Homo sapiens: one gene and its partner. The protein of the gene in region 1 purifies or fractionates together with the protein of each later gene. This does not show direct contact. Each region holds a gene or a part of one and is shown in the gene's direction. Other genes may lie near its edges.

What was found.
Region 2: the proteins of EPB41L3 (region 1) and CLNS1A purify together in Homo sapiens (affinity purification with mass spectrometry; 3 studies listed by BioGRID and IntAct, with this or other methods). This does not show direct contact.

Annotation. Positions count from the first base shown.
Region 1 is NC_000018.10:5,397,498-5,400,997, reverse strand, and holds part of EPB41L3 (band 4.1-like protein 3), read left to right. Parts: coding exon of another isoform or gene 1-29; intron 30-2,854; coding exon 2,855-2,977; intron 2,978-3,500. UniProt on the Homo sapiens protein: Tumor suppressor that inhibits cell proliferation and promotes apoptosis. Modulates the activity of protein arginine N-methyltransferases, including PRMT3 and PRMT5.
Region 2 is NC_000011.10:77,614,030-77,617,412, reverse strand, and holds the end of CLNS1A (methylosome subunit pICln), read left to right. Parts: intron 1-717; 3' UTR 718-2,883; downstream 2,884-3,383. UniProt on the Homo sapiens protein: Involved in both the assembly of spliceosomal snRNPs and the methylation of Sm proteins.

The DNA of each region.
Region 1 (3,500 bases):
AAGGAAGCGCTCCATTCCTTGAGTCTCAGGTAAAAACCAAACATAAAGGATTTTCCAGAAGAAATTGGTCTTCAGACTTCAGTGTCATTAAAATGCTCTTAGTTTTTATTTTCCCTTTAACATTTATCTTGTTTAAAACCAAGGTAGGTACATAATTTTGATTTAGATTCTGGGGAAGGGAAAATTGAATTTTCTTAATATTTTAGTTATCAGTTATGCATCATTTCTTCATGGCTTCTAATCCAAGCTGATTTTTCTCTGTATGTTGTCATTGACTTACTTTCTGATAATAATCTTGCTGAAATGTTGTTTTACTGCCTGTTTTTACCTGTAGAGTCGTGCTAATTTAGATGAAGTTGACTGATTTTGAAAGTTCTGAATTCTTATTGGTTTCCCCACTAGCCAAGTGTGATAAAGAAAATGCAGGAAGGAGACTCTGCTGACTCTGTGGTTACTTCTCGTCAAATAATTTTCCAGAAAACTGTCCCATCAACCCTAGAGGTTATTCTTTCAATTCATTTCATTTAATCTAGCAACAACATGTAGATCAATCTGTAGTGGTATTTTTAAAGGCACACGTATTTCTAGATTTAAGTTTTCAGGCTGTAAAAAACAGAAAAGTTTCTAGAAAACATTCTAGTTTAAAATGTAAACCAGGGCACTCACCTGCTCCTGGTTTGATATCTCTTCCCTCTGTAATCTGTGAAGCTATTAACCTACCTGGTCATATTGTATTATGCCTCCCTGAATACAAAAGTTTCTTAGCTTTCCTTTCTTTTGCCTTATTGGAACTAACACTAAAGAAAGTGAGAGAGAAACTCCTGAGACAGTGAACTTCAGTTGTAAATAAGATTGGAGCGGGCACAATGGCATGTGCCTGTAGTCCCAGCTCCTGGGGAGGCTGAGATGGGAGGATCACTTGAGCCCAGGGGTTCGAGGCCGACCTGGGCAACATAGGGAGACCCCATCTTTTAAAAAAAAAATGTAAGACTCGAACACTGTACAGATCACTGTAAGAGGCTCTAATAGTGTCCTATTTGTGGGAAATATTTCATTACAATGCCTTGAACACAGTCACACTCAATATTTATTGAATAATAAGTGCTATTATGGATTCATTTCCCTGTATAAAGAAATACAATTTACAAATATGGAAAATATTTACATAAATTTGTAGAATGTTGGGAAGCTCTCTGTGATAACAGTATATGAAGTATAGATTATATTTAACGAGGAAAACTTTTATCCCCACACATGTAAAGCTAAGTAACTTATAGAGCAACATCAATAATGTTATTTAATCTTGAAATATAAAATGATCCAAAATTTATCATAAGAGCAAATCTGTTCTTCAAAAAATTTACTGCAAAGTATGTTCCAGTTTAAAGAAGTTGCAACTCTACCTACCGAATGTATTCTGAGCTGAAGTTTATAGTTTATCATTTCAGAGGAGAAGAGATTGCAGCCATAATTATTAGATAATAACATGAGCACTGTATGGTCCCATCACAGACCTGCATGTAGCAGTTGCCCTGATTTTCTTAAAGGATTCTTATTTTAGAAATGAGATACCATCAGAATTTCTAATTTAGCTTTTATATTTCAAATATAGGGCACAGAGGATTGGGTTATTGTAGACAGAATACCAACTGAGGTAGTTGATGGTGATTTGAAAAAGATTGTGACTTACAAGGTGGTGACCGTGAGCAGTAAAACTGGTGATCTCCCAGCTGACATGTTAAAATCTGGCACTATTAAAATGCAAAGCTTCGAAGAATTGGCTCGAGAAATGCAACTGAAAGAAGACAGCAAACAGAAAATATACACTCTAGGAAAATCCTATGACACTGTCTCCGGGAGAATTGTTACTATGACTGGGAAAGCTAAAGAGGGTGAGAAAGTGGAGCAGCCCTCCACTACAGAAGCACTTCAGAAAATGGAGAAAGAAATACCAGAGTCCATGAAGATCATTCCCGGCCTGGCAGAATATGAGGTCCTGGAAACCCTCGCTGATGAGAAATCCAAGAGAGGACCAGAGGTCCAGACGACACAGCGGAAATTGTCCGAATCCCTGGCCCCCATCAAGGAGGCCGAGTCTCGCCGGCAGAGTCCTGAAGAAGATGACCTCAAGAAGGCTCCACAGCTGGAGAAGGATGTGGCCGTCCTCCCTGGCCTGGAAGGCAGACGCTTCAGCAAAACAGAGCAAGTGCCCGAGAGTGAGGTCTTAAAAGTGGGCCTCTTTGGTCCCCGAAGGAAGAGCCTGTCCGAATGGAGATATTCCCAGGAACCAGCCTTTACCGTTGCTACTGCCCATTACGTTACTGAGTCATCCGCCTCCCGAGTAGTGGTAACCAGTGTCACTCATTGGGGCCACAGTTTGCAATTCCAGCATGACAGTTTTTGAGGCAGTCCCCTTCCACCCCAAACCTTTCCGTTTCTCTTGCTGCTTGGCTTTATGTTGAGAGCAGCCAACCCAGCTTCTTAATTTTTTTTCATGGTTAAATCAATACCGCAGTGCAAAGTCAGCATTAAAACACTTTCCATTTTATTTCCAGCTCCCTGTTCCCAAGATGTGATAGTGCTGCTGTGGCTTGCAATGAAGGGGAAAAAATATATATATCTGCTTAAATCGGCGCCACCCTGATCCTAATAACCGTCTCTGCTTTACCAAACAAGAGCACCTGGTTTTCTATTTTATTTCCCATTCTTTTCGTTTCCAAACTCTGAGATTCCTTCGTTCTTCCTCCTCCCTGTCTCCTCTGCCTACGATTTTGTCTAACAAGCTGTGAATGTTTATGTGCCTGAGTTTGTGTCTCTCTTTTGTGCTTGACTCTGCCTCTCTTTGTTCACTCAGACTAAGCAGTCTTCTGGGGAAAAGCTCATGGATGGCTCTGAAATCTTCAGTTTATTAGAGTCTGCGCGAAAACCAACAGAATTCATAGGAGGGGTTACTTCTACTTCTCAAAGCTGGGTTCAGGTGGCCATTTGTTTTCGTCCTTGGTGTTTCTGAATGTGCCCATGTGCCTTTCCTTACCCTTTTTTTGGGCGTGAGTGTGTGGTTGCATCCAGCTGGCTTTGCCTTCAACATCTCAAAGGTGTCTTCACTTATTGTCCTTTGTGTCTGCTTGGCATATCTGTCACATGCCTTTAGTTGCATCTCAAGAATGTACTTCACTATTCGAAAGGCGATCATATTGAGAAATTTTAATAGAATTAAATATCTAAAAGCATTATGTCTCACCAGTTGAGTCTAAGAAAGCAGCCAAAACCAACGTGAATGCGCTGCAATGCTTTGGTTTTTGTTTTGTTAATTGCACTTTATCCTGCCTTCCGTTTGTTTTGCGGATGTCCTGAAGCAGCAGCGCAGGTTCAAGTGCATGCACCAGGGGCAGGGGCAGGCATCAGAGATTTCAGTGGGAGAAATGAAAGCTAATTTATATTTTTCGTCAGTGTTTCTGGTTATAAGCACTTGCTGCTGGCTTTAGACATCCTGGCGAGTG
Region 2 (3,383 bases), on another chromosome or scaffold:
CCACCACCACACCCGGCTAATTTTTTTTTTTTTTTTTTTTTTTTTGAGATGGAGTTTCGCTCTTGTTGCCCAGGCTGGAGTGCAATGGTGCAATCGGCTCACCGAATCCTCCGCCCCCCCGGGTTCAAGTGATTCTCCTGCCTCATCCTCCCGAGTAGCTGGGATTACAGGCATGTGCCACCACGCCTGGCTAATTTTGTAATTTTAGTAGAGACAGTGTTTCTCCATGTTTGGTAAGGCTGGTCTTGAACTTCTGACCTCAGGTTATCCGCCTGCCTTGGCCTCCCAAAGTGCTGGGATTACAGGTGTGAGCCACCACACCTGGCTGTGTAAATTTTTAATCATTTAAAATTGTACATGCTTTAAAAGAATGAATAAGGAATAAATAATTAAGAGTAGTTTATGCAACTGTTAATAATTTCAGGATAATGGAACTAGGACTTCTCAGTGCATGAGGTGGGGTGGAGACGGCACGTTAATCGTGGAATCACAACTCTGCCACATACTTGTGTACACCTTTGGACAAGGCATATAACTTATTTAATCCTCACTTCCCCCATCTGTAAAATGGGGAGGATAATACCTACCTTGCAGGGTTGTTGCAGAGGCTAAGATAAAATGTACCTAAGTCCTCTGGCACTCGTGACTAGGCATTCAATAAGTAGTAGCTATTATTATTATCACTACTGTAAACACTGTAAACCTTTTGTTTTTCAGATTCTGCTCCTAAGTGTAGGAGAGAACTTGGTGCCTCTTCCACTCTGGAGTGAAGTTAATGAAAGTCTTTTTCCTTTTCCAAAACCCAACCTGAACCAGTTCTTTCTTGAGACAGACTATACTGAGACAACAAGTTGTCACCAGCAGAAGATAGATAATATGACCTTTATTAACTTGATGAATTAACTTAACCAAGAGGGTATTTGTAGTTTACTATTTACCCTAAAACTTTCTGTGTCTGGGTACCCTCTGAGTAGGCCTATAATTCCTACCTTGACTGTGTGCATCATTTGTAAGCTAGCAGATCTATGTGGTGAAAATGCACAGGAGCTTGGTAGACTGCGGGGGAAAGAGAGAGCTCCTTTCGCCATGTTTTACCAGTCTGCTGTTATAACCTCTTAGGTTGTATCCTTTAATTTCCAGCCTTTTAGGTTAGTTTCTGTAACAGAACAAGTGAGTCTGGGATGAAGTCCTCAAAGTACTTCAAATGGTAATTGTTTTGTTTTTGTAATAGCTTAACAAATAAACCTAGGTTTTCTATATTACTTTGCTCTCATTCTTGACTAAAACCATTAATGAGAAATGTTTTTTAAAAAATAATGCTGGCAAATATGAGAATTTTGTTGGCTTTATTTTTGTTTACTTGTTGAGAAGATGAACATGAAATTAATAAGAAAATATAGTTATAGCTTCTGGCAAGTATTTAGTAAGGCAAAGATTTAACACATTTCAGGGGATTTCTGCCACTTCCTTTTAGATCAGCAGTAATTTCTTATATTTATCAACTCTCAATTTTTAGTTTTCATAGATACCTGGGTATTATAAGGCTGATTTGTAATTACTGATTTATACTTGGACTTTTGAAATCATTATGTGTCCTTAAAAATAAGGTTATACAAGCTAACCTTCTTAACAGGATCACATGGCTAATTAGTGACTAAACTGATGTTTGGTACCACTCAGCCCAGTGTTCATTTCAGCACTGTCACTTGGTTTCCCTTATCTTGCAAGGTAGACTGAAAAAAAACGAATTTTCCTTTTTCTAACCAGACTCTCAGAATTTCTGAGTCTGTTAACAATAGGCAAGTAAAACAGCCACTTGAAATGGAAACTAAAATTTACTGAGACCTCTGTACTAGCCACTGTCCTGAGTTCTTTATTATGTATTATAATATTCTTAATTATCTTATGAGATACGCTTTTATCCCACTTTATAGTTGAGGAAACTGAGTTATAGAGAGAGGTAAAATAACTTGCTTAAGGTCATGTAGATAGTGAATTGTGATTTTTGAGCCTGTGCTTTAAAACATCATACAGCCTTACCACCTACCAGCAGCAGAAAGCATGCACACTCTCCCCACTGCTGCAGGGTTTCAGTGTTAACATTTCAATGGCCAGTACAAGAGCTTCCCCAGTTTCTCTGCTACCCATCTGAGCAACACCCATAATTCTATCCTAGAAGTTTGTCCATTCTTCAGTAATCAGTCAGGACATTCTCACAGGCTAATATTAGAAATTCCATTTGAGTTCCTTTTAAAAGGAACAAATTTATAATTGTGACTTTCCATGAACATAAATTGCTCTGATAGCAAAATGTCGAGAAGATTCAGAGTGTACTTGGTTTCTTGTTGGTGTTGCTGTGGTCAATGCAATATGCAAAAAGGCAGGAGACCAAAGCATGTGGGCACCTCTCTGGGCTTATTTCCTCATTAGACTAAGTGACTTTCAAAGATTGAGCTGTAACATTCACTAGATAGTTAGAACCGTAGCATTGAGAAAATAGAAGCTGAGAAAAAAGAGCAGGTCAGGCTTTTAAAAGATAAAATTTATAATGATCAGCCAGACAATATTTATTGATTTCATTTGAGCCTAATTTTAGGGTTGCTGGAATTGTTTTCTTTGTGTGTTCCTGATGTAGAGACACTTTAAAGGTACATAGACATTTCCCCTCCAAAATGTAAGTCATCTAAATGTTCCTAAAAGCTAGGGTTAATGGTTCTCTGTTCTAGGTTCTTCATTTAAAAAATGTATTCATTAAGATATGGTCCCAGCCGGACGTGGTGGCTCACACCTGTAATCCCAGCACTTTGGGAGGCTCAGGTGGGCAGATCACTTGAGGTCAGGAGTTTGAGACCAGCCTGGCCAATACGGTGAAAACCCATCTCTACTGAAAATACAAAAATTAGCCAGCCATGGTGGTGGGCACCTGTAATCCCAGCTACTCAGGAGGCTGAGGCACAAGAATCACTTGAACCCAGGAGGCAGAGGTTGCAGTGAGCTGAGGCCATAAGCTTGTTTAAATCTTTATAGGGGCTGGGCACGGTGGCTCATGCCTATAATCTCAGCACTTTGGGAGGCTGAGGTGGGTCGATCACCTGAGGTCAGGAGTTCCAGACTAGCCTGGCCAACATGGTCAAACCCTGTCTCTACAAAAATACAAAAAATTAGCTGGGCGTGGTGGTGGGGCACCTCTAATCCCAGCTACTTGGGAGGCTGAGGCAGGAGACTCCCTTGAACCTAGGAGGCAGATGTTGCAGTGAGCTGAGGTCACACCGTTGCATTCCAGCCTGGGCAACAAGAGCAAAACTCCATCTCAAAAATCAAAAAAGGTTATGTGGTTATGTATTTTTGAGGTTCTGTTAGGAGCTTCCTCAATATTGGTAAAG